Linked DNA regions of Homo sapiens. The protein of the gene in region 1 purifies or fractionates together with the protein of each later gene. This does not show direct contact. Each region holds a gene or a part of one and is shown on either strand. Other genes may lie near its edges.

What was found.
Region 2: the proteins of TOP3B (region 1) and YTHDF1 purify together in Homo sapiens (affinity purification with mass spectrometry, with the first as the bait; one large-scale study listed by BioGRID). This does not show direct contact.
Region 3: the proteins of TOP3B (region 1) and CLTA purify together in Homo sapiens (affinity purification with mass spectrometry, with the first as the bait; one large-scale study listed by BioGRID). This does not show direct contact.
Region 4: the proteins of TOP3B (region 1) and CLPX purify together in Homo sapiens (affinity purification with mass spectrometry, with the first as the bait; one large-scale study listed by BioGRID). This does not show direct contact.
Region 5: the proteins of TOP3B (region 1) and GPC4 purify together in Homo sapiens (affinity purification with mass spectrometry, with the first as the bait; one large-scale study listed by BioGRID). This does not show direct contact.
Region 6: the proteins of TOP3B (region 1) and ACTR3 purify together in Homo sapiens (affinity purification with mass spectrometry, with the first as the bait; one large-scale study listed by BioGRID). This does not show direct contact.
Region 7: the proteins of TOP3B (region 1) and MYO6 purify together in Homo sapiens (affinity purification with mass spectrometry, with the first as the bait; one large-scale study listed by BioGRID). This does not show direct contact.

Annotation. Positions count from the first base shown.
Region 1 is NC_000022.11:21,965,788-21,969,287, forward strand, and holds part of TOP3B (DNA topoisomerase 3-beta-1), read right to left. Parts: intron 2,989-3,500; coding exon 2,832-2,988; intron 1,930-2,831; coding exon 1,816-1,929; intron 1-1,815. UniProt on the Homo sapiens protein: Releases the supercoiling and torsional tension of DNA introduced during the DNA replication and transcription by transiently cleaving and rejoining one strand of the DNA duplex.
Region 2 is NC_000020.11:63,209,632-63,213,131, reverse strand, and holds part of YTHDF1 (YTH domain-containing family protein 1), read left to right. Parts: intron 1-3,500.
Region 3 is NC_000009.12:36,193,921-36,197,420, reverse strand, and holds part of CLTA (clathrin light chain A), read right to left. Parts: intron 1-3,500. UniProt on the Homo sapiens protein: Clathrin is the major protein of the polyhedral coat of coated pits and vesicles.
Region 4 is NC_000015.10:65,151,031-65,154,342, forward strand, and holds part of CLPX (ATP-dependent clpX-like chaperone, mitochondrial precursor), read right to left. Parts: intron 2,610-3,312; coding exon 2,517-2,609; intron 1,507-2,516; coding exon 1,400-1,506; intron 1-1,399. UniProt on the Homo sapiens protein: ATP-dependent chaperone that functions as an unfoldase.
Region 5 is NC_000023.11:133,310,990-133,314,489, forward strand, and holds part of GPC4 (glypican-4 precursor), read right to left. Parts: intron 435-3,500; coding exon 269-434; intron 1-268. UniProt on the Homo sapiens protein: Cell surface proteoglycan that bears heparan sulfate. May be involved in the development of kidney tubules and of the central nervous system.
Region 6 is NC_000002.12:113,959,589-113,963,088, reverse strand, and holds the end of ACTR3 (actin-related protein 3), read right to left. Parts: 3' UTR 493-3,500; downstream 1-492. UniProt on the Homo sapiens protein: ATP-binding component of the Arp2/3 complex, a multiprotein complex that mediates actin polymerization upon stimulation by nucleation-promoting factor (NPF).
Region 7 is NC_000006.12:75,747,928-75,752,038, reverse strand, and holds the start of MYO6 (unconventional myosin-VI), read right to left. Parts: upstream 2,801-4,111; 5' UTR 2,616-2,800; intron 1-2,615. UniProt on the Homo sapiens protein: Myosins are actin-based motor molecules with ATPase activity. Unconventional myosins serve in intracellular movements. Myosin 6 is a reverse-direction motor protein that moves towards the minus-end of actin filaments.

The DNA.
Region 1 (3,500 bases):
TGGGAGGTGAAGGTTGCAGTGAGCTGAGACCACGCCATTGTAATCCAGCCTGGGTGACAGAGCAAGACTCCATCTCAAAACAAACAAACAAACAAACAAAAAACCAAATTTTGTTTTTTTTAAGAGACAGGGTCCTGCTCTGTCGCCCAGGCTGGAGTGCAGTGGCACCATCAGAGCTTACTGTAGCCCTGAACTCCTGGGACAAGTGATCCTCCTGCCTCAGCCTCCTGTGTAGCTGAAACCACAGGCACACACCATCATGTCTGACCAATTTTTTTTTTCAATTTCTTGTACAGACAGGGTCTTGCTATGTTGCCCAGGCTAGTCTTAAATGAACTCCTGGCCTCAAGTAATCCTCTCGCCTCAGCTTCTCAAAGTGCTAGGATTACAGGCACGTGCCACCATGCCCGTCTACTTTTTAAATTATTTTTTTCAGAGACAGGGTCTCCCTGTGTTGTCCAGGCTGGTCTCAAACTCCTGGCCTCAAGTGATTGAATATTCTTTTCTGGAGAATTTTCTAGGGAAAGAGAAAACCTGGAAGATTGAGGAGGAGTCAGAAGGGCTGCAGATGGAAATCCTACAGAAGCCAGCATCAGCCAAGCTACAGGGATGGCAAGTGGGGCCCGTCCCAGGGGAAGTACCACTCCTTGTTGTGGGGAGGGCTGCTGCCTGCACCTGCTAGTATTGCTACCTCTTCTGATTTTTCAAGAGAAGCTAGAAGGCAGAATTTTAGTATGAAATCTCGTAATTTTTAAGTGCTGGTAACTATTCTGGAATTTGTGTAAACACCATGCAGGTTAGTGGAGTGCATCTATGAGCTGTGCTTTGTTGGGGTCCTGCCACTCTCTACCTCTGCTGAACACTTGTCGGAAGAGACAACTCTTTGTTTTGCCTATGGCAAAAACAATCCAAACAACTCAACCCCAGGCCCTGGCCCTTGCCAATCCCACGTAGGCTGGTCAGGGCAGTGCCTTCTGCATTCCAGACAGACAGATGTGGGTGCTAACAGAGGCCAGTTGTTATGTGAAGCTGGGCTCCCCAGCGTGAGGCCTGGAGGTGGCAACAGTGTCTCTGCAGGAATGTGATCAATGCTGACAGCCTGGAGCAGCTTTAGAAGTTTCAGATGCCTGAGACGATAGCATGGCGGGCAACAGGGCACTCAAGGAAGGCCAGAGAAGGACAAGGAGAAGGCGGCTAAGGAGGCCAGGCTGTGTCTCGACGGATCTGGTAGCTGTCATGCCTGTAGCATGTTTACTTCAATAGCCACAGATGTGTCCCCAACCCATGCAGCCAGGTCACCTCACCGTTTTCCTAACAGCCAAGCAGCATGTCCTTTCAATTCATAGAAGCCCTGAGTAAGAAACATAATCCCATAAAAGCACGCAAGCTGATTGCAATTGGAATCTCAAGACTTTCCCCTGCTAGCTGTGACCTTGGGCAAGTTCATCAGTGTGCACCAAGGTCCCTCTACAGTTGTTAGTTTGAATCTCTGTGTGAAATGGAGTCCTGCCACACGGAGGTAATGCCTAGCGGGTCACGTGGAAAGGGGAGAGTGGAAGGGGTCCGACAAGGTCACAGGTGTGGACAGTGCCTGGTATGGAGCGGGCATGCAGTACACTGTGACTATTGCACTGGGCAGAAATATCTTAGGAGTATATGAGGGAGTAACCATTCAGCTTTCCAAAAAGATGTCTGTGTTTCAGAAAGGGGGAGAAAGACGTGGACTAGGATCACAGGCTGTTCCTCCAGCGGGAGGCATCCAAGGGCCACCCTCACCCAAGGCAACTGTGATAGATGTGGGTGGAGCAGGCACACCTGGGCTTCCTTCTCCAGCTTTGTCATGTTTAAAAACATCTGTGCGATCTCCCGGTCAAACACTCTTACTCGGTCCCAGTCCAAAAGGAGAGATCTGTCTTTGTCAGTGTTAACCTGCAGGAAAAAGGATAAAGGGTGAACGCACAAGAAAAAGTCTCCAGGTGAGCCCAACGCCAGGAAGAACCAGGACAGATGAAGCTGGTCCTTGTCTGGGAGCCAAATAGCCCTGGCTGTAATGGCTCACAGCTGTACCTGTTCAGGTGGGCAGATACGCAAGCTGACATCTGGCCCTCTCCACCACTTGCCCCAAAACCAGGCAGCCAGTCTCAGGAAGGTGGCCCAAAGCTGAGGCTGATGTGTCCCTAAGAAGCACCTGAGCCCCTACTTCTCACACCACCCCTGCCTATCCCCAGTGCCTGGCCAGTGGTAGGTATGGCCACCGCCAGGGTCCCAAGCCCCGTGTCAGCCACAGCAGCTCCAAGACAGTGTCTCACTGTGTTGCTAGGCTGGAGTGCAGTGGCACGATCGTAGCTCACTGTAGCCTTGGACTCCTGGCCTCAAGCAATCCTCTTGCCTCAGCCTCCCAGGTTGTTGGGATTACAGACATCAGTCACTGTGCCTAGCTGTATTAAGTCTTACAGTGAGCTTCTGTGGAGGCTTTTATTTGAAGAAAGGGTTCTAGGAATTTTAAAAAGTTTGAAAGCCAATGGTCTCAGTCCAGTGCTTGGACCTGACCACTGAAGCCACTGATTCCTGTGGGGTGACCTCACCCTGCACTGCCAGAGCTGAACTCATTCCCACTTATCCAGATTCAGCATATACAGGCCCAGTCTCTTCCCACTGCCCCCATGAAGGCTGGGGTCCCTCAGCCCTAGGCACCACAGACCACTTCCAGGTACAGCCGTCCACACTTCTGCCCTCAGCCCGGGGCCTGCCGGCTGATGATGATGGAAGACTCTCAGAATCCATGCCCCAAACCCAGAAAGCCCCAGCATGAATAGAGAAAGGCAAGGAACCTTGGCCTGCAGCACCCAGTAGGTCTCTGGTTTGAAGGACTGGATTTTATCATGTCTCTCCACACAGAATCCCAGGGTTGGAGTCTGACACGGCCCAAAGGAGATGAGAGAGCTGTCTAAATCACCGTATTTCCCCTGGAAATATTTAGTCTGAAACCTGGAGGGAGTGGAAAGATATTTTGGTCACTGATTCACTCAAGACACTATTATGGCCACCCATGTGAGTCCAGCCCAAGGCCAGGGGTGGTGCATGAAGGAGGTGGCATCAGGTGGTGTCCCCACTTAGAAGCCAGTGGGAGCAGAGTGGGCATAGCCTTAGGGAGGATTCATGTGTGTACATGGGTGACAGAGCCAGTGAGAGAGGAGACAGAGGTTTCTACTGTCTCAGGCCAGGGAGCCTTCTATTCTATTCCATCTACTGCACACTCTCCTCAGGACCCCCAGAGCACAGACAAACACACTTTATCAAGCAGGGCATATGTGATCTCTGTCAGCTAAATAAACAATTTTCTTTAGGTCTCTTTTGTTTTTGTAGAGACAGGGTCTTGCTGTATTGCCCAGCAGGAGTGCATTAATGGGGATTCACAGATCATTGCAGCCTTGAACTCCTGGGCTCAAGTGATCCTCCCACCTCAGCCTCCCAAGTAACTGGGACTACAGGCTCACACC
Region 2 (3,500 bases), on another chromosome or scaffold:
CACCACTGACTGGCCTGTGTCCATGGCTTGCCTTCTCTTGCCTCAATTTCCTTTTCTGTAGAAGAGAGAGAGTAGTAACTGTTTGTAGAATTGTTGGGAGGATGACATCAGATGGTGCACATAAAGCGCTGAGACAGTACCTGATACAGCAGGGCCCAGTGAGTCATAGCTGCCCTGTTTTCTTAGGTAATTCAGGCTTTCTCTGCCTTGGCACTGTGGACATTTTGCACGGGAACATTCTGTTTTGGGGGCTGTCCTGTGCATTGTTGGATGTTTAGCAGCCTCCCTGGCTTCCCACCCACTAGATGCCATTAGCAACTCCTTCTCCCCATCCCCAGTTGTAGCAAGCAAAACTGTCTTGGTGGATGTTTTTTGGGGGATACAGTTGCCCTGGTTAAAATCTACTGGGAGCTGCTCTCTCTCCTCTGTGCTGCTGTTGCAGCAAAACTCCCAAGAGAAGCGGTATCTGTTTATGTCTAAGAGTCCAACTCGGGAATCAGACTTCCCCTGCCTCACTTTCCTACCTCCAGGCCGTTGGCTTGGATGAGGGGCTGCACCTCTGTGAGCTCCTCACTTTGGTGAGCAGGCCTCATGGGGCAGCACAAAGCAGATGCTCTGAGTGCTCCATTTCGTGTGCTGTGATTCACATTCCTTCCTCCGCCACTCCAAGTAGCCCTCAGCTACTGGGCATGTTTACTTTAAAGTAAAACCAGGCTTCACCTCTTCTCTGTGAAGGAATAAAACTAGTCTGCCCTTTTCTGAGGTGTCTTAGAACTTCTTAGAATGTTCCTTCATCCCCCTCCCTCCTACTGCACTTGGCGAATCAAGCAGCTTAGAGACCAAGAAACCTTGTACAGGTGGAGCCTCGGCAGCGCTGCCCCGCGCTCCGACCCTGCTTCTGTTTCTTGTCTCTTGGTTGCCTTCTGAGAATCTGCCCTTCCTCTGGGCAGAACTGACTTGACTTTAGTGATGGGCCTTTGGATAGAGGTAATGGCAGGAAGTTAACTAATTTTTTGAATTTCTTGTTTTCTAGTGTGTTCTTATTATTTTAGTACTTTAATGGTATTATGTACTGAATTTTAGCCAATAAAGGGGGAGGGAGGTTGCATCAGTACACTTAAAAGTGTGTGTGTGTGTGTGTGTGTGTGTGTGTGTGTGTGTGTGTGTGTGTATTTTGGAGACAGGGTCCTGCTGTTACCCAAGCTAGAGTTCAGGGGCATGATTATAGCTCACTGTAGCCTCAAATTCCTGGGCTTAAGCAATCCTCCTGCCTCAGCCTCCTGAATAGCTGGGACTACAGGCATGCACCACTACACCTGGTGATTGATTGATTGGTTGGTTGTAGACACAGGGTCTCTTTGTGTTGCTCAGGCTAGTCTTGAACTTCTGGGCTCAAGTGATCTTCCTGCTTTGGCCTCCCAAAGTGCTAGGATTACAGGTATGAGCCACTGTGCCCAGCCAAAAATATTTTTATAAAGTCGGAGCTTTTGTGTTGTTTGGGAGGATTTCTTTACAAATCGATTATTTTTATGTCAGTGGGTGTCTTAGCTCCATATGTAGAGTATACAGTATGGTTTTATAACTTTTGATTTACACAGACATACCTTTGGAGCCATGGCCACAGTTAAGATAGTGGGCATATCAATAGCTCTGGGTCCTTTTTTGTTGGAGACAGGGTCTCACTCCATTGCCCAGGCTGGAGTGCATGATGTGATCATGGCTCACTGCAGCCTCGACTTCCCAGGCTCAGGTGATTCTCCCACCTCAACCTCCCAAGTAGCTAGGACTACAGGCATGTGCCACCACGCCCAGCTAATTTTTAAATTTTTAGTAGACATGAAATATTGCTGTGTTGCCCAGGCTGGTCTTGAACTCATGGGCTCAAGCAATCCACACGCATCAGCCTCCCAAAGTGCTAGGATTATAGGCATGAGCCACTAGTGCCCAACCTAACCCTGGGTACTTAAAAGAGAAAAATCTAGATATGGTTTGTAGTAGCCAGTTGGAGGCTACCGTGTTTTGTGTGAAACTGTCATACTTAGAATGGTTTAGAAAGTCTTAGGAGAATGCCTGCCTGTTAGGTTGGTTTAACTTGTAATGGGCTGTGAGGGGTTGTTGCCGTGTGGTGGGGGTCCTTCCCTCAGAGAGGCCTCACCCGCCTTGCTGTGCTTCTGGTGCTAGAGTTTCAGTCCTAGTTGCCCCTGAGGCGCTTGCGACTGTAGCCGCTCAGTATCTGTCTTCTAGTCTGTGACTTGAATGGGAGTTGGGGGAGCAGAGGAACTGGGAGTGAAGGGCTCTGGGTTGGGCTTGATTGTTGTGATTTTCTCTCTTTTTTTGTTTTTTGAGATGGAGTTTCGCTCTTGTTGCCCAGGATGGAGTGCAGTGGCGCGATCTCAGCTCACTGCAGCCTCCACCTCCCTGGCTCAAGTGATTCTCCTGCCTCAGCCTCCCGAGTAGCTGGGATTACAGGCACGCGCCACCACGCCTGGCTAATTTTTTTTGGTATTTTTAGTAGGGACGGGGTTTCTCCATGTTGGTCAGGCTGGTCTCGAACTCCCGACCTCTGGTGATCCCCCTGCCTCAGCCTCCCACAGTGCTGGGATTACAAGCATGAGCCACAGTGCCCCGCCGATTCTCTCTTTTGAGGCTTTTCCTGCTCGGGGACTTCTGGTTTCCCAGTTCTCTGTTGTTTTCTGAAAGGAAAGACTGTGAAATGACCCAGAACAGTTCCTACTCAGAGTTTAGAAGACACTGTCTTGGCATGATGCCTGAGTTGGGAATAGATGCCGCTGGCCCCCCAGGCTTCCTGCACACTCCCTGACCAACAGACTGAGTGTGTTTGCTGTGATCCCACTGACAGAAATTACCAAGGCCATCTGGGCATGCCTGTACCTGTGCTGCCGGATGCAGTTTGGTCAGCAACAGACCACAATATGATAGTGGTCCCATAAGACTATGATGGTGCTGAAAAATTCCTGGCACCTGGTGACGTTGGAGCTACCATGTTGAGGGCAGTGTATTACTCGTGTCTGTGGTGCTGCAGTAGGTGTGACCAAACCTACTGCCCCAGTCATACCAGAGTATACACCTACAGTTACGTACAGTACCATACAGTACGTAATAATTGATGATAAACGACTGTTACTACTTTGTGTATTTGCTATACTTTTAAGAGCATATTCTGCCTACTTACTAGAAACAAAGTCAACTGTAAAGCAGCCTCAGGCAGGTTCTTCAGGAGGAATCCAGAAGAAGGCAATTGGTGTGACAGGAGATGACAGCTCCATGTGTGTTGTTGCCCCTGAATACCTTCCAGTGGGGCAAGATGTGGAGGTGGAAGATCCAGACCCTGTGTAGGCCTAGGCTAATATGTGTTTTTTGTGTCTTTTTGGGTTTTTGGTTTTTTTGTTTTGTTTTGTTTTGAGGCAGGGTCTCTCCCTCACCTGGGCGGAAGTGCAGTCATGACTCATTGCAGCCTTGACCTCCTGGGCCCAAGTGAT
Region 3 (3,500 bases), on another chromosome or scaffold:
CTATATACAACAAATAAAACCAAGATGTGCTTATATACAAATTTCACCAAAATGTGTACACATCTGTCCTTAAGCTCCCAAGTCCAAAAGCTTTTGATTTTATTTTCTGTTTTCTATTTTACAGTGGTAACAAATGGAAGACTAGCAGAAAGAGAACAGTGTTTCTCTATGAAAATTCTGCATGAGGGAAAAAAAAAAGTGTGGCCTGGAATCACCCATAGTGAGCAGAGACCTGCAGCTTCATCTTTGAGACAGTCTTGCTCTGTCGCCCAGGCTGGAGCAAAGTGGCCCAATCATGGCTTACTGTAGCCTCGACCTTTTGGGCTCAAGCGAACCTCCCACCTCAGTCCCCACAGGAGCTGGGATTGCAGGCATGCGCCACCACGCCTGGATAATTTTTCTATTTTTTTGTAGGAAGGGGGTTTCGCCATGCTGCCCAGGCTGCTATCGATTTCCTGGACTCAAGCGATCCACCCGCCTCGGTCTCCCAAAGTATTGGATTACAGGCATGAGCCACCATGCCTGGCCTCTCATATTTTTCTTAATTTTCCTAGTTGACTTTTACTCCTATATGTCAGTACAAAAATGAGTTTCTTATAGTTTGTCAGTGGCCTTTTACCACTTTAAGGCATGTGCCACCTACCTATGTAGTTTTTTAAGCACTCTATAAAGTTTTGGAAATATGAAGTTTATCAAACTAGTGAAAGCATGGGGGAAGCATATTCAATTTCGCCTCTGTAATAAATTTCTTGGTGTAGAATTGCTGGGTTACAGCTGGGCGCGGTGGCTCACACCTATAATCCCAGCACTTTGAGAGGCCAAGGTGGGAGGATCACTCGAGGTCAGGAGTTCAAGACCTGCCTGGCCAACATGGTGAAACCCACCTCCATATACTAAAAATACAAAAATTAGCCAGGGTGGTGGCATGAGCCTGTAATCCCAGCTACTCAGGAGGCTGAAAGAGGAGAATTGCTTGAACTCGGGAGGCAGAGGTTGCAGTGAGCCAAGATCGCGCCACTGCACTCCAGCCTGGGTGACGGAGCGAGACTCCATCTCAAAAAATAAAAAAAAAAAAAAAGAAAAAAGAAAGAAAAAAAAGGAATTGCTGGATCACAGGATATGTATTTTATTTTTTTTTGAGAGAGAGTCTTGCTCTGTTGCCCAGGCTAGAGTACAGTGGTGCAATCTTGGCTCACTGCAACCTCCACCTCCTGGGTTGTTCAAGTGATTCTCTTGCCTCAGCCTCCTGAGTAGCTGGGACTACAGGCGTGAGCTATCATGCCCACCTAATTTTTTTTGTAGTTTTAGTAGAGACGGGGGTTTCACCACGTTGGCCAGGATGGTCTCGAACTCCTGACCTCAGACGATCCACCCACCTCAGCCTCCCAAAGTGCTGGGATTACAGGCATGAGCCACTGCGCCCAGCCAGGATATGTATTTTTTTATTTTTTTTGAGACGGAGTCTCACGCTGTTGGCCAGGCTAGAGTACACTGGCGCGATCTCGGCTTGCTGCAACCTCCGCCTCCCAGGTTCAAGTGATTCTCCTGCCTCAGCCTCCCGAATAGCTGGGATTACAGGCACGTGCCACCATGCCCGGCTAATTTTTGTATTTTTTAGTAGAGACGAGGTTTCACTATGTTGGTCAGGCTGGTCTCAAACTCCTGACCTCAGGTGATCCGCCCACTTCAGCCTCCGAAAGTGCTGGGATTTCAGGCGTGAGCCACCGCACCTGGCCCAGGATATGTATTTCAAAGACTTCTAAAATTCTACCCACTTGTTCCTATTAGTCTACCAGTTTATATTACTACTAGCAGCACAAGTGCCCCATTTCTTAGACCTTCCCTGATACTAGGGACTGTGCTTGATCATGTTTTAAAATTTTTGCTAATTTGATAATGGAAAAAAAAAACAAACTCATGGTGGCTTTGTTGTGCCAATCTTATTTCCAGTGAGGTAATCACATACCCGACACCTGATTTTCTTCTTTACTGAATTTTCTGAGTTTGCCTATTTTCCTGCTATTTTTTGATCTCTAAGTATTTGCTCTCTAATAGTCAAATATTTTCCCTAGTTTCTCTTTTGATTTGGTTTATGGTATTTAACACTTGGAACAACTTAATTTGTGTATGTAGACATGATCGACTTTTTCTTCATGATTTCTGTATCTGCTTTTATGCTGAAGGCCTTTCCTATTATGAGATAGACAAATACTCACTTTTCTTCTTTTACTTTTTAAATGTCTCTCTTTAATCCACCTGGAATTTATTTTTGTGTAAGACAGAAGAGTGAGATAGTTTTAAATCCTAGATCCTACAGTGGCTAGTCTGGCCAGGCCTACATTATGGTTAATATAGTACAATTGACATACCAACTATCCACTAATATAGTCCAGCCCTGGGCTGGAATATGAGAGACTTTGATCACTACTCCATATACAAAACAAGAAGCAATCCTCATCCCACATCTCCTTAAAAATCACATGCTGTCTGAAGGCTCCTCCAGACCCACTGGCATCTGCTTTCCTCTTTATTAGTTACTGTATTACTGCACTAACATTCTTACAAGAATCAACTGGCTCAAGCCAAGGGATCGTCTGTTGCTGTGGAAACATGCAGAAAGGACATGTAGGGCCTTGACTTACTACAACAACTAAACTAAGCAACACGATGCTTCAGAAGGAAACTTTCTAGGGCCTTTCAGGAACTCCAGACAGAAAAAGGGCCAGTTTTCAAAAGTGAAAGACTGTCCCAAACCCACTTTCAACTTTCCACATTCCAGAAACATTTGAAGTCAAGCAGACCTACGTTTGAAGCTGCACTTGAGCCATTTATTACCTTGCTACCTTAGTGACACTGCTCAACTTCCACACCGATCCATTCTCATCTGAAATATGACACTACCACTTAACCTGTGGAGCTACTGCTGGGATCTGAAAGTGTACCTGGTATACAGCAAATGTGCAGTACAATTAACTATCATGCATGAGATTTCCCTAAACTTCCCTCCACCACTGCTACCAATAAAATTACTTCTCCAGAAAGCTTCCCTTTAATTCACCCATGTCTCTTTCTTCTCCTACAAGAAATAACTTGTCACCGGGTGCGGTGGTTCACACCTGTAATTCCAGCACTTTGGGAGGCCAAGGCGGGTGGCTCACCTGAGGTCAGGAGTTTCAGACCAGTCTGGCCAACATGGTGAAACCCCGTCTCTACTAAAAATACAAAAAGTTAGCTGGGCACGGTGGTGGGCGCCTGTAATCCCAGCTACTCGGGAGGCTGAGGCAGGATAACTGCTTGAACCCAGGAGGCGGAGGTTGCAGTGAACCGAGATCGCACCACTGCACTCCAGCCTGGGTGACAGAGCGACTGTCTCAAAAACAACAAAACACCATAATAGTGCCTTACTGCTGTACTCTCTCTGTGGCTTGTCTCTCCTGTTCTCTTCCCCGACTCAGCCCTCATGATTGAGAGCTTTTCAACAGCTCCACTTGTGCTGCCTC
Region 4 (3,312 bases), on another chromosome or scaffold:
ATTAGGAGCACTTTTAATATTAAGACGGCTTAGGCCGGACACAGTGGCTCACATCTGTAATCCCAGCATTTTGGAAGGCCGAGGAGGGCTGATCACTTGAGGTCAGGAGTTCGAGACCTGCCTGGCCAACATGTTGAAACCCCATCTCTACTAAAAATACAAAAATTAGCCGGGTGTGGTGGCACACACCTGTAGTCCCAGCTACTCAGGAGGCTGAGGCAAGGGAATCGCTTGAACCCAGGAAGTGGAGGTTGCAGTAAGCCGAAATCATACCACTGCACTCCAGTCTGGGCGACAGAGCAAGACTGAGTCTCAAAAAAAAAAAAAAAAAAAAAAGATTGCTTAGTAATATGGGAAACAGACTATACAACCAAGAGTTGCAAATAAACTTCCCAGCATTTTCCCTGACAAATTTATTACTGGGAGAAAAAAAAAAAAAAAAAAAAAAAAGGACAATATGGCTTCAATTGTGAAGGCTTAAAAAATCCTCTTCTCCAAGAAAGTATCATCTGTTATTTCAACTCAAATGCTGGAACTTAGCATATGTATATGGTAAAGAAGCTATTTCTGATCACATCCGTCTTGTCTCGAACTAGTAAAAATGATAATTCAGGTCACCACAATTCCTTTAAAAGCCATACGTCAATGTCATTAAACAATAAAAATAAAAGATTATATCTCTCTGGATAACTAAGGTTGTTCAAAACACATCAACTGCCTCTAAAGTTATCTTGGAACACAAGCAAACATAAAACATAACATACCTTATGATTTGAGTTAAACAGAAACCTAGCTTTTGTGTAGGTAACATTAATGTCAAGCATTGCATAGTAAACATTTATTGAATAAATCAGGGGTTAGGAAACTGTAGCTTGCTAGCCAAATCCAGCCCCATTGCCTTTTTTTATATATTTTTTGAGACTGAGTCTCACTTTGTCGCCCAGGCTGGAGTGCAGTGGTGCGATCTTGGCTCATTGCAACCTCCGCCTCCTAGGTTCAAGTGATTCTCCTGCCTCAGCCTCCCGAGTAGCTGGGACTACAGACGCACACCACCACGCCCAGCTAATTTTTGTATTTTTAGTAGAGACAGAGTTTCACCATGTTGGCCAGGATGGTCTCTATCTCTTGACCTCGTGATCCGCCCACCTCGGCCTCCTGAAGTGCTGGGATTACAGGTGTGAGCCACCACACCCGGCCTGATGATCAACTTTCAAAGACTCACAAAATACTATTATTTTATAATACCCAAATTAGATTTTTCTACAGAAAACTTGAGATTATTGCTTCCCTTAGAAATATAATAATTTTTATGTAATTTTAAAATGACAAACCAATAAACATAGCAATGAGGAGCTCATCTTAAATTTTGTATCTGTTCTGGCTTGAAAATACACTTTACCGGATGTATCCTGGTTCCTTTTTTCCTTCTACTACTTCTTTGTCAACCTCCACACATACGATATCAGAATTAGGGACTTCAAACATTGGTTCTAGTAACAGCTTTTCCTAAAGAAATAAAAAGTAATGAATCACATTGAAAACAGATTACATACAAGTGCTTTTATTCTATAAATCACAAATTGGAATCCATTCACTCAAGGAAAAAGAAACAAACAAAACAAATATATATATATATATAAACATATATATGGGATTATATATATAAACATATATATATATATATTTGGGATTATAGCTGTGATTACAGGCGTAAGCCACCAAATCTGGCCAATTTTTTGTATTTTTAGTAGAGATGGGGTTTCGCCATGTTGTCCAGGCTGGTCTTGAACTCCTGAGCTCAGGCAATCCGCCTGCCTCAGCCTCCCAAAGTGCTAGGATTATGGGCATGAGCCACCATGCCCAGCCTCTTTTTTTTTGTTTGTTTGTTTGTTTGTTTGTTTTGAGAGATGAGGGTGTATGTTGCCCAGGCTGGTCTCAAACTCCTGGGCTCAAGCAATCCTCCTGCCTTGGCCTTCCAAAGTGTTGGGATTTATAGGTGTGAGTTACCAGGCCCGATCCCGATTTTCTGTGTCATTAATCATATTATGTCTATGTCCTTTGTTGCAAACACCTTGAAGTTCCTTTTTGAGAAAAAGCAAAATATAATCTACTGTGACTAAAAAAAAAAAAAAATTCAGGCCAGGCGTGGTGGCTCACGCCTGTAATCCCAGCACTTTGGGAGGCTGAGGCAGGCAGATCACCTGAGGTTAGGAGTTTGAGACCAGACTGGCCAACATGGTGAAACCCCATCTCCACTAAAAATACAAAAATTAGCCAGGTGTGGTGGTTCTTGCCTATAGTTCCAGCTACTTGGGAGGCTAAGGTGGGAAGACTGCTTGAGCCTCAGCCTGGGAGGTGGAGATTGCAGTGAGCCAAGATCGCACCACTGCACTCCTTTATTTGAGACTCTGTCTCAAAATATATATACATATTTTCCAAAAGAAAAACAGGGAAGCTTAATATACTCAAAACTCAGACCAAGAAATAATTGTTTTTATAGAATAATGCCAACTCACCATTATGGACCGAAGGCCTCGTGCACCTGTTTTTCGTTCTAGTGCCAATCTGGCTATAGCTTTCAAAGCATCCTCAGTAACATTCAGTTCACACTACAAATACATTAAAAATAAATTATAACTTTTATTGTTAATTTGTACCACCAGAAAATGTACCATTAAGTGAGGGCACAATTTCTCATGGTGTTTTGGAACCCTGCCTTCAAGAAGCACTTGTTTCTATCAATCCATGACAGTATCAGTATTATGAATTCCAAGTTTGTTCTGAAGCTTGAAGATGTTTTCTAGATTAACACGGACTCCCTAGGATTTTTTTCAACATTTACTAAACCTCTGTGTGTTACATACTAGGGATTTAATGATGAATAGACATCATCTTTGCCAAGCAACTTACAGTCTATTGTGTGATGACAGATGACAGATTAGCAAACTAGCATTTATAGTCCAGTGTATGTACATGGAGCTAAGGGAGCAGCAAAGGGGGAGACATCTAAATAAGACTAGGGAACCACCGGAGGATTTTAAGCAAGGGAGTAAAAACATTAGCCTTATCTTTAATCATTCAATAAATATTTAAGAACTTAATATCTATTTGTTGGGCACTGTTCTCAATGATCCATTCCAGAAGTAAAGAGGAAGATAATGATATTTTGGTGATAGTCACAGACAGACATGAGACAGGCAGACCAATTAAGAACTAAATGCATGGGTCAAGGTGAATAATATCAAAGGGGCTTGACTTGAGGCAGTGGCAACGGAGAAGAAGAGACTGATATTTAGAGACACAAAGTTCACA
Region 5 (3,500 bases), on another chromosome or scaffold:
TCTCCAAGAAAAAGGCATTTTCTCATTATTAAAACCTGGCAGCCACTGTATCTATTACCTTCAGAAATGCCACCATTAGTTTGAGGGAACATTCACTTGCAGTAATGTTTTTACTATTCTCAAAGTAGTTGAGCGTAGTCAGGATTCTGACAAACACTAAATAGCAAACACTTAAACAAACAAATTTCATAGCTGCCAATTACAACATTCCTTGTGACTGGAAGCTAAGCTATCTCCAGCAACACAAATATGTTAACCACTTGCTCACCTATGAAATTGTTCCATTCAAAATCGAGATCCCCTTGGTTGGCCAAACAGCCTCTCATGATGTTTGAGCAGTAGTTGTAACATGGCTTCACAGTCACGAGACCCCGGCAGTGGGAGCAGTAGATCATCTTCAACAGGGCATGGGTACACTGGGCTGTGGGGTTTACCTAATGTGTGAAAAGAAAAAAAGACAGTAGTGGCGGGGCTAAAATAGAGACAGAAATTGCTTCTATCACATTGACACTGAAGGCTTGGCCATGAACTTAAGAATGAGTTGTGATTGATCACAATTAGTAAGCCTGGACTGCCTCCTGAAGACATAGATTAGATAAAAGATACATGTTGGGACAGGGGAGAGGAGGGAGATGACCCAAAACAAACAAGGTGCACCAACTCCCACCCTGTAAACACCCATTCCTCCCCCACCCCCTTCCCTCCTGGAGTCTCTCTCTCACACACACATAAATTGCTCAATTATCTCAAAATCCTTTTACAAATAACTATGCAGGGTGAGCCATGAGATGCAGTGGAGGAGACTATCTTCATGTGCCCACCATGCACGTCCTGCTAATAGCCTCAACCATCAGTGTTTGTCTTTGCCAGACTGGAACAGAAGCACATCTTCTTCTGCATTACATTGACTACAAGGCTGTCCTTTGAACCCTAACCCCAAATTAAGGTTTAGAAGGGTACCTACGGTGTCTTCTGTTCTGTGCCAAGAGCTGTGCAGAAGGCAAAGTTAATATATTCTACAAGGCAGAATATGAGTAATCTTAAACTTAGGGGGTGTGTGAAGGTTTTCCAAGGCTTGGGAGTACTAAAGCACAGAGTGTTCACAGAACACTTGATGAAAGAGGTGGGGCTTTGGTTAAATTTTCGAGAAAGGGGCTGGACTTAAGTGGTCAAACAAAGGGAGAGCATCCTGAGTTAAGTTCAATGAAATGAACAAAACCTGTAGGAGAGTACAGGACATGTCACTGCATCTCAGAATGGGGTTGGGGAATTGCGGGAAATAAGGTCAGGTGCACAGGAGTATGCGTGTGGCCAGAATTTAGAGGGGCTTAAACATCAGGCAGAAACTGGGATACCAGTTGCCAGGCACGGTGGCTCACGCCTGTAATCTCAGCATTTTGGGAGGCCGAAGTGGGCGGATCACAAGGTCAGGAGTTCGAGACCAGCCTTGCCAGCATGGTGAAACCCCGTTTCTACTAAAAATACAAAAATTAGCCGGGCATGGTGGTGTGTGCCTGTAGTCCCAGCTACTCAGGAGGCTGAGGCAGAAGAATTGCTTGAACCTGGGAGACGGAGGTTGCAGCGAGCCGAGATCTCACCACTACACTCCAGCCTGTGTGACAGAGTGAGACTCTGTCTCAAAAGAAAGAAAGAAAGGAAGAAAGGAAGAAGGAAAGGAAAGGAAAGGAAGAAAGAAAAAGAAAGAAAGGAAGAAAGGAGAAACAAACAAACAGGGACACCATATGGCAGGACACATGGGGCTATGACTGGAAGTTTGTGAGGAAGGAAAGGAAGAAAGACAGAAACATTACCCAAGTCAGATTGGGCTGGCTGTCCTCTCCAGAGAAATGGGACTTCATTTCATCTAGTTTTATAAAGTGAAATTATTTGGGGTGTAGAAGAGCTGATTCCATCCGGTCACTTGTTTTCCTCAATGCTTAGAAAGGATTGGGGCTAGGTATAGCATTCTAGCAGCTAATTAAAAGTTCCTGTCTCCTCTTTCTCTCTGCCCCACCCTCCTCTTTTGGAGTCAGTATCAGAGGATTAGTGCATTCTTCTGTGTAAGTACCCACCAGTTCTGCTAACACAGACTTTTGGAGGCAGATACCACCACAGGGAAGAGATGCTGGGATGCAGGGCAGCCCGGCAATGCACTTCACCTGCTCTGGAGTGTTACTTTGGATATCACTTATCAGCAGTGCCCTTAGGAACAGGAACAGGGGATTAGTGGTGTCAGGAGAAAAAAAACAGTCAGGCTCCTACGTGATGCATGTGCACATCCATTCCCCTCATCCCAAACAAGGCTCTAGCCTAAAAGGGGGGAATACGTGTAACAATAAAATGGTAATTGTATACACTGCCCTACCAAGAATTAAGATTTTTCCACAGTTTTAACCATTCCCAAATGTTTTCCTAGGCACTAAATTAGTCCTAACTATGTATTAATGTACAGTAAAATTTTGGCTAACCAATATACCCTGGAGGAATGGCCTTTTCTGGATAGCCAGATTTGCTGGACAGCTGAAAGTTCATTCCTTTAAAGTCACAGATTGTTAAGACTTCCCTACATGTCCCCCTCTCCTTTTGTAAAGGAGCAAACAGGACTGGAGGGGGGAGGTGGCCTGAGAAGCATAGGATCACAGAAGTCTTAGAGTTGGAAGGGACCAGAGAGATCACTGAGTGTTGCTCTCACATTTGATAGATAAGAAAAACCAAGCCAAAGCCAAAGAGATTAAGCAACTTGCTGACAGTCACCTCACAACATCGGATTCCAGTACTATACCTTATCAAGCATTTGTGATGAAAAGATTTCCCAGATGTATCACGTTTCCCTGCCAGATGACAGGAAACTGTAATCTTAGGCACTGGTTATTTCCTACTTTAGTTTTAGTTGGGTTCCACATTGATGAGACTGCAAAATGGCTAGATTTTAAAGAGGTAAAAGTTATGCAAGTGGCTATGAAATGAAAAATCACTGAATAGCACGTGGCATTTGTTGAATATTATGCTTAAGAGGAGACAATGCCCTCGTAAGAAGAAACGTAGAAAGCTAAGGGGTCAACAAATAGTTACTGAGCACCTACTATGTGCCAGGGATTATTCTGGAATGCATTTGAATTTAGGTAACAAGGCAAGTTAAGAATTTCTATATTAGAATACAAAACCTGTTCTACAAAATACAAAGCAATTCCAATGTGGTACAGGACTTTAGGAAATGAGCAAAAATTTTAGACCCAAAATAGTTATATTCAGAAAACACTTCTTTTTTCAAAGAAGTCCTTTCTCATTCTTTTAAAAAATAACTCTAGGAAGTGGTTCATTGTATTCTTAGTTCAATTGCAAGTCAAATCATTTATGCAACAGACCTTGTAGTACCCTCCCCTAAAATAGGCTGATGGAGGCTCAAGTTTTAAAAAGAGACCAAACTAAATGACACAGTAGAGTTTTATTAAGGGAAATTATGATGCTGAGTTTGGCAGAGTTCTTCCATTTCATTATTT
Region 6 (3,500 bases), on another chromosome or scaffold:
ATGCTATTCAGTAAAATATCAAAAAAATTATAACCAGTAAGTTCTATTCTGCAACTACCTGTGTGGTCTTTGCAAAGTCACTTTTCCACAATGTTATTTATGTCAATCATGTGTGTGATTTCACCCTGAACTGCATCAACTTTTTTAGCCAATGTTTGTGTTTGAGGGTGTGTTTGAAGGTGTCAGATATCCTTCAGTCTTCTCTCCCACTCTTCTCCTCACTTCTCCTAATCACAATATTCTAATCCCCTCCCCAATTGCTGTAACTCAAGTTGCTTCTGCCATATCTAAAATATCATCCCCACCTACTCTCCATCTACTAAAACATTCATCTTTCAAGGTTTGGGCTAAGAAAAATCAGTCTACTGCAGTAGAAACTACCCCACTAGTGCTTTAGTCATCTCATGAATGTATACATTATTCCAACTAATCATTTTAGCATTTAAAACAAGTCTCAGATTTTCTTGTTGCTCAGGAATTTATTTGGGAAAGATCCCATGTACCCACAATAAGAAAAAGATGTGTGGTTCCAATTCCGATATCGACTTTCTAATATAATTCCAAATAAGATTAACAATTTACTGCAACCTTGAATCTTATTAATTAAAAATGGAGGAAGTTTAGAATTAAGTCATCTCTAAATCAAGTGGTTTAACATGGGATCTGGACAATATCAAAATTGATCAATAAAAGCCAGAGGGAGAAATGAGGCCTGTTTCTACTGTTAATGTTGAATGTTACATTTCAGGACATGTCAATTACCTTGTACAACAATCTGATTTAGAGCCTGTGATCATTTACACTACAGAGATTTTGAAATGACTGAAGGCTTAGATAATTATTTAAGACCTGCTTCAGAAAAGTCATGATCACTTAGTAATCCCCCACTACCTTACGCAGAATGTCACTTCTAAGGTAGAAACTAGTGGAACAGAAAAAAAGTCGTAATTCGGTCATATTTGACAAATATGGGTATTTTGAAGGAACAAAAGTTGTATACTCATGTAATTCAAAGTTTTATTTTAACATGAAAAATAATTTTTACTCATTCATTCATCAAACACATCCACTAAACTACTATATGCCAAGCAATATGTCAGGCACTGGAAATATGAAATGAATAAAGCAGATGCTACTGTCGAATTACTTTCATCTGTTGTTGGATGTAACACTTAGGTAAAAATTTTAGGAGCAAAGTACTAATTTTTAAACAATAGATCCACTTTTATAAGCCCCACTTTCACCTTACATAGCTGGACTTCTCCCTCTAAACAACTAACACTACCATTTTTATGAAGAGAAATTCCGCACTTACTATCTCTCAAATCTTATCTAGGCAAAATATTTGTCCCTCCTCTAAGAGTGCCTTTACTATTAGACTAAGCCAAGGACAGAATATTTATTCATCTTTATGCACAGTACTTGAACCACAGTAGACAGTCAATCAATGCTTCTGGGATTGAAGGCTCAAAACTTGATGCAATATATAGGTAATATAAGTGAATGTTGGTGCTTGAATAAAAGAGAAACTTTATTTTAATTCAGCATCTTAGTTTTAATGTAATTATAAAAGTCACCAAAAATTGACAGAACACTAGAAAACAAGTAATTGCTAAATCAAAATAGAATATCGTATACTTTTAATCTTTCATTTTTTTTCTTTCAGGTTTTTCAGTTGCCTTCTTTCCTAGATCACGTATTTCTATCGTTGTTCCTTTTTTATTGTTCCTGTGACCACTGGAGCACTAGTAATAAATCCTTAACTCAAATAGGTTATATTTAATTTCAGCACCCAAGCTCCAAATGCATCAGCTAAACTGGGTTATAGCATGGAGAATACCTCAGACGACCACAGATTTTATTTTTGTTAAGATTCTATCAAGACTGAGGCAAATTATAATAAAAGTTCTCATATCATAGAAAACAAATTACGTGGAAAAGGATAAACATTTATACAGTACTGAAGCGTTATCAACAATGAGTAGCAGAAATTCTTTTTCACTGAAGTCCAAAAGCCATCCCAGCCCTCCAGCAGATCTAAAGATTCTTGCTAAAGGTCAATTCAGGATATAGACCTAATACAAGAACAAGGTATTTACTGTCAAGATTTGCTATGAAAGTTCCACGTAACTTGTAACAACTCTGTCCTTGGCCAACTATATATACAAGGTGCTGTTACAATGAAATATATTTTAAGGCACAGTATTCCAAACTGAGTAGAACATTTTGCTCCCAGAGTCTGCACAGATTTTGGATTATTTATACCAGCTAATAGAATTAGTACCAATTAACCCGAGTTGGAAATCTGGGTGGTAACAGACTTCAGAGGGCTATCCAAGGTACTCATGCCTGGTGACTATGAACTACGAAAGATCAGAAAGAATGGGTCACAGGAATCAAGGTTGAGCTGGTAAGAAAAGGGGGAAAAGACTGGACTTCAGTATTGACAGATTAGCCCAGAATGAAGAGGAACAAAAACATCCTTTACTATGGTACAAATAAGCTTTATAACACAAATAATCTTCTCAATAATTTTATAAACATTCTAGTATCATCTTTAGGGTTATCTGAAAGAAGTTTCTATAGATATATTCTCTAGTACTTTTCTGTAGAAATTAAAAATAAAGATCATAATTGGCCTATTATCCCTGTATTTCATATTATTTCTAAAAATATTCCTAGAAATATCTGCAAGAATAGTTATTTTAATCTTTTAAGTAGCTGTGAAAACAAACCAAAAAATTGTATTGGGGGGTCTGAATAACCACTTTATCTCCTATAGAAAAGAAGATAGGTAAGAAGAGGATGAGTACTTATAGTAGGTGCCATGAATTAATGTCTAAGGGTGAAGATGTGAAATTTGCTCACTTTTTGAAAAGCAGGCATCAAGTTAGATAATGATCATTGATTTTATTTGTCCATTACTATTTCCCACTTGATCAAAGCACTGCCTATTAAAAAGGATAAATCAGATAATACCTTTACTACCACTAATGAATCAATAGAAAAGGCTAGGTTTTGCAGTCAGAATCTACTACACTGCTAATATTGCTATTAATAAGCTACATTATATTCTAACAACTCAAAGAAATTGCAGGATAATCCAGTATAATGCCTTTACCTTATATATAAATTGAATCAAGGTCCAGAGAGTTCAAATAATTTGTCCAAAATAATACAAATATATTTTCCAAGTTTTAACAAAAAACAAAGTTCGAGGAGCTATATCATCAATTATCAGAATCAGAATTAAAAATTAAATCACTGGCTTCAGTTAGTGCTTTTGCTACCATGCTCACGTTGCTTGATATCTAATCAATGTTACAGACTATTTAGTTCACCTTGGCCAACCTCTACATATTTCCAGCTGAAGTTGCTTTAAGTTGAAAAAACGGTATACAATCACAGAGGAGAGATATAAAGAAACAAGAATGCTGCTACCATCCTATTAGGGTTCACTCCTCTAAAAGTAGAGCAAAGGGATATCAGAACATACACAA
Region 7 (4,111 bases), on another chromosome or scaffold:
GGATGACAGGGCAAGACTCCATCTCAGAGAAAAAAAAAAAAAAGAATAAATAAACTCTGAGATTTATTTAAGTTATAACACTTCCCAATATTTTTAGATATTTTAATATATAAAAATGAAACTACACAGAGGTTAGTAAACTCTTCTTAAAACTGGTATTTTACATGTCAAAAATGGAGTCTCAACTATCAACAGAAAGTTAAAATGGGTTTTTTTCAATGTTTGGATGTTTGCATTTGTTCAAGCCTCACATGGTCAAAGTCTTTAAAACTTTCTAAAGAAAGCTACATTTTGGAACCCAGATACAGCCCAGTTGTCTAAACAATGGGCTACATGATACACCACAGACTCCAGGCAAAGTCACAACAGGATGAGAACAGAGCCTTCAGCCTCTCTCAGATTTCCTGGCCACTGTTATTTTAAAACTTGACCACGTAAACATAAACAGGGAAAAATCCATTTCAGATAATCCCTACTGGTTATGATTTACGATCTTTTGTTTTTAATGCAATATTTAATTGCATTAATTTACATTAAATATTGTAATTGTTCATAACATTTTTCTTGCTCATGTTTCTAGGCACTAACCAAGAATATATATGTATATCATATATAGTTTTATATATTATACAGTTTTTAATCATGATCTTTCCTTAAATGTCATTCATACTTCTGTTACATTTACAATGGTTTCTGAAAACAAAAATGTAACTTACAAAGATGAGAGAATGATAAACAGCATGTCACACAAAAAATACAAAAATAATGGGCAAATGTACATAAGACTAAAATGACTTCTGTTTACCAAAGTGGATGCAATTCCTGCGTAACGTAAAATACTCAAAATGAGCTGTATATATAAAAGTCTGTGAGCTATTTTGAACGGCAGCATGGTTTCAAGCTCTGGCTATAGCCCACTTTGTAACATTTGTGGCGGTTTCTACAATTAAGGAAAAAAGGCACAAAGGTAATTTTTTCACTAAACATTCTCCAGTTTGAAAACCACAACCCAAGACATCTAGGAAGTTCAGTTAATTTGTACAGAAATGCTGTTTTGCCGCCAACCTTTGTACCATGACCACTACCAGTCCAAGTTCAAGATTCACGTTTTATGGTGTGAAGATAAGTTTCAGCTAAATCTTAAGAATGTTAATTTTCAGGCCAGGCGCGGGGGCTCAAGCCTGTAATCCTAGCACTTTGGGAGGCCGAGGCGAGTGGATCACCTGAGGTCAGGAGTTCGAGACCAGCCTGGCCAACATGGCGAATCCCCGTCTCTGCTAAAAATACAAAAATTAGCTGGGCAGTGGCGCGCCCTTACTGTAGTCCCAGCCACTCGGGCGGCTGAGGGAGGTCAATCGTTCGAACCTGGGAGGTGGAGGTTGCAGTGAGCTGACAGAGCGAGGCTCTGTCTCAAAAAAAAAAAAGTTAATTTTTAAAACTCTCAAGTTCTGACTTTATTTAGATAGACTGCATCTATACCACCAGAGCATTAAAAAAAAAAAAAAAATGAGGCTTATTTAGCCCGTACAGTTAAGTCTATTAAGTTAGGGCAGTGCTCCTCATTTCTCACTAATACTTGTAAATCAGGATTTAAGCATCCCTCCACCACATCACTTTATGCCAGGTAAGATGTAAAGAATATTTGGCCAGGCGCAGTGGCTCACGCCTGTAATCCCAGCACTTTGGGAGACCGAGGCGGATGGATCAAGAGGTCAGGATTTCAAGACCTGCCTGGCCAAGATGGTGAAACCCCGTCTCTACTAAAAATACAAAAAAATTAGCCAGGCGTGGTGGTGGGCGCTTGTAATCCCAGCTACTCGGGAGGCTGTGGCAGAGAATTGCTTGAACCCGCGAGGGGGAGGGTGCAGTGAGAGGAAATCGCACCACCGCACTCCAGCCTGGGCGACAGACCAAGGCTCCGTCTCAAAAAAAAAAAAAAAAGGTAATGAATTTTTTAAACTGTATGGAAATACTTTTAAACACGGATGTTCTAGCAATAACCCCATCAAATTGTGTCCTACTTAAAATTAAAATCCCAGAGTTTAAGCATTTTAATCGTTTTAGGGAGTTTTTGGAAATTAACAAAAAAAGTTCTTGTTCAGTAGCATATCCGTAAATTAACATACTCAAGGTACTGGACCACCTGGAGACTAAGAATAAGGCTTTAGAAAGTCTCGATCTGGTCTCCTACATGATTAGACTATTAATGGTATCATTTGATCTTCACATCTCAGAGCAAACTGCGCTCCCCCTGCACTGAATTTTAAGCGTGTTTACAAAAGAGAAAATAAAACTATCACGGAGTGTCCAAGTCCGAGTTAGGCACCTGAGTGCTCTGCTTCTACCTGGGAGCCAGGGAAGAAACACAAAGGGACCTTGGTGATGAGAACCCATGAAAGGAGACTGATTGTCTTTCGGTGGAAACGAGAACCACCGCCGGCCCCACTGCTGCCCAGGGCCCACCCATCCATCACCTGCTTCTCCCACCCGCGTCCTCGGGCAGTGAACAGAAGCGTCGGCCCCGGAGCTGCTCGAGGAGGCCCGGGAGCAAGGCCGGGCCAGGGAACGCGAGACCCCGGCGCCGACGCCCCGCAGTGGGTCTCTGGGACACTCACCGGTGCGGGAGCGAAGGCAGGTGCGCGGCGGCGGGGCTACCTGTACGGGTGAAGCTGGAGGGCGCGGTGAGAAGTGATGAGGGCCAGTGAAGAGGGCGACGACGCGGACGGGCACCAGGACAGGGCGGCGACAGCGGCCGGGCTGAGGCTGGCTTCCTGCTCGGACAGATCCCGAGTCGGTCTCCGCCCGCCGGCCGGCGCCCCGCCGAGTCCCCGGCACTGCGGCGTGCACGTCACGGCTACGGAGCGCCCGAAGGGGCGGGGGCGCCGGGGCCGCGGCAGGCCGTCGGGCGCGCGCTCCGGGAGGGAGGGCGCGCTCCGGGAGAGGGCGCGCGACCCCCGGGGTCGCCCCGCCCGCGGCGCAGAGCCTCTGGGGCGAGGGTAGGCGCCCTGCAGCGCAGAGAGGGGCTGCCCCTGGACAAGCCGGGAGTTCTTGTTCTTCCCATGGCGAAACGGCCTCTTTTGCCGCGGTAGTTGTTTCCAGTCCCGGCAAAGCAGGTCCTGTCCGGCTGGATACTGTGACTGTGCAGTCTACCAACAGCGAGAATCAGTTCAAGCAGGGAGAAAGTTGTTCGGAGAAGGGGCGAGGAGTCCGGGGCTCCGCGCGGGGGACCCAGGAACCAGGTGTCCGCGCTTGGGCGGCAGCGAGGCTGCGTGGCGGTTGCGGCAAGAACCACTGCTCACTCGGCCCCGGATCGGGCCGGCTTGGACTGGGCTGCCCTGCATAGGGGGGAACCTTCCCGCACAACTAAGTTGCCATTCGGTCTTTGGAGGAGGGGGCTTGGGATGGGAATTTCGCACCCCTTTGCCTCTTCCCGCTCCTACCCTCGCCGACGCATTTACTTTATTTAGAGCCCCTACCTTCTCAGTCGTTTAAATGTTACTGTTTTTATTAGTGACATACCTGTGAGTCACCTTTTAAAATATGAAGTACCTATGCAAATTTGAATTATATGGTAAAAACACATCACCTTTACAATGAAAACAGCTTCTTTTAAGGCAACGAAATAACAATTGACTATAATGCTAAATGTATCCGCTGAAAAAAGCCTACTTGCACATGAGAATTACACGTTTTTCTGCAACATTTATATGTAGCGACTTGGAAACTTCTGGAAATCTAGAAGATTCTGACGAGGAGACAAATTTCTGATACTTAAAGACTCCATGGTTCTGTGGGTGGAGAAATAAAAACTCTAAGTTCTGATAAGATGTTTTAGAATTCAACTAAAACAATAAAATATTAAGAGTAAAATAGGGAAGTAAGAAAGAGGAAGAGAAACAAAGAAAGGAAATAATTTACAGCAATCTCAGAAATTTAATTCCAAATTGCCAGAAGGTAAGTCTTAAGTATATAAAACTAAATTTCAAAACAAACTGAAAAAAAGAGGGAGAAGATGAAGATGGCTGTCTCAGTTCACACTGCTCTGACTCAATTTTGGATTTAATACTAAACTTCATTTGGCAAACCAATAGAAGTCAATACATTTTTTTAA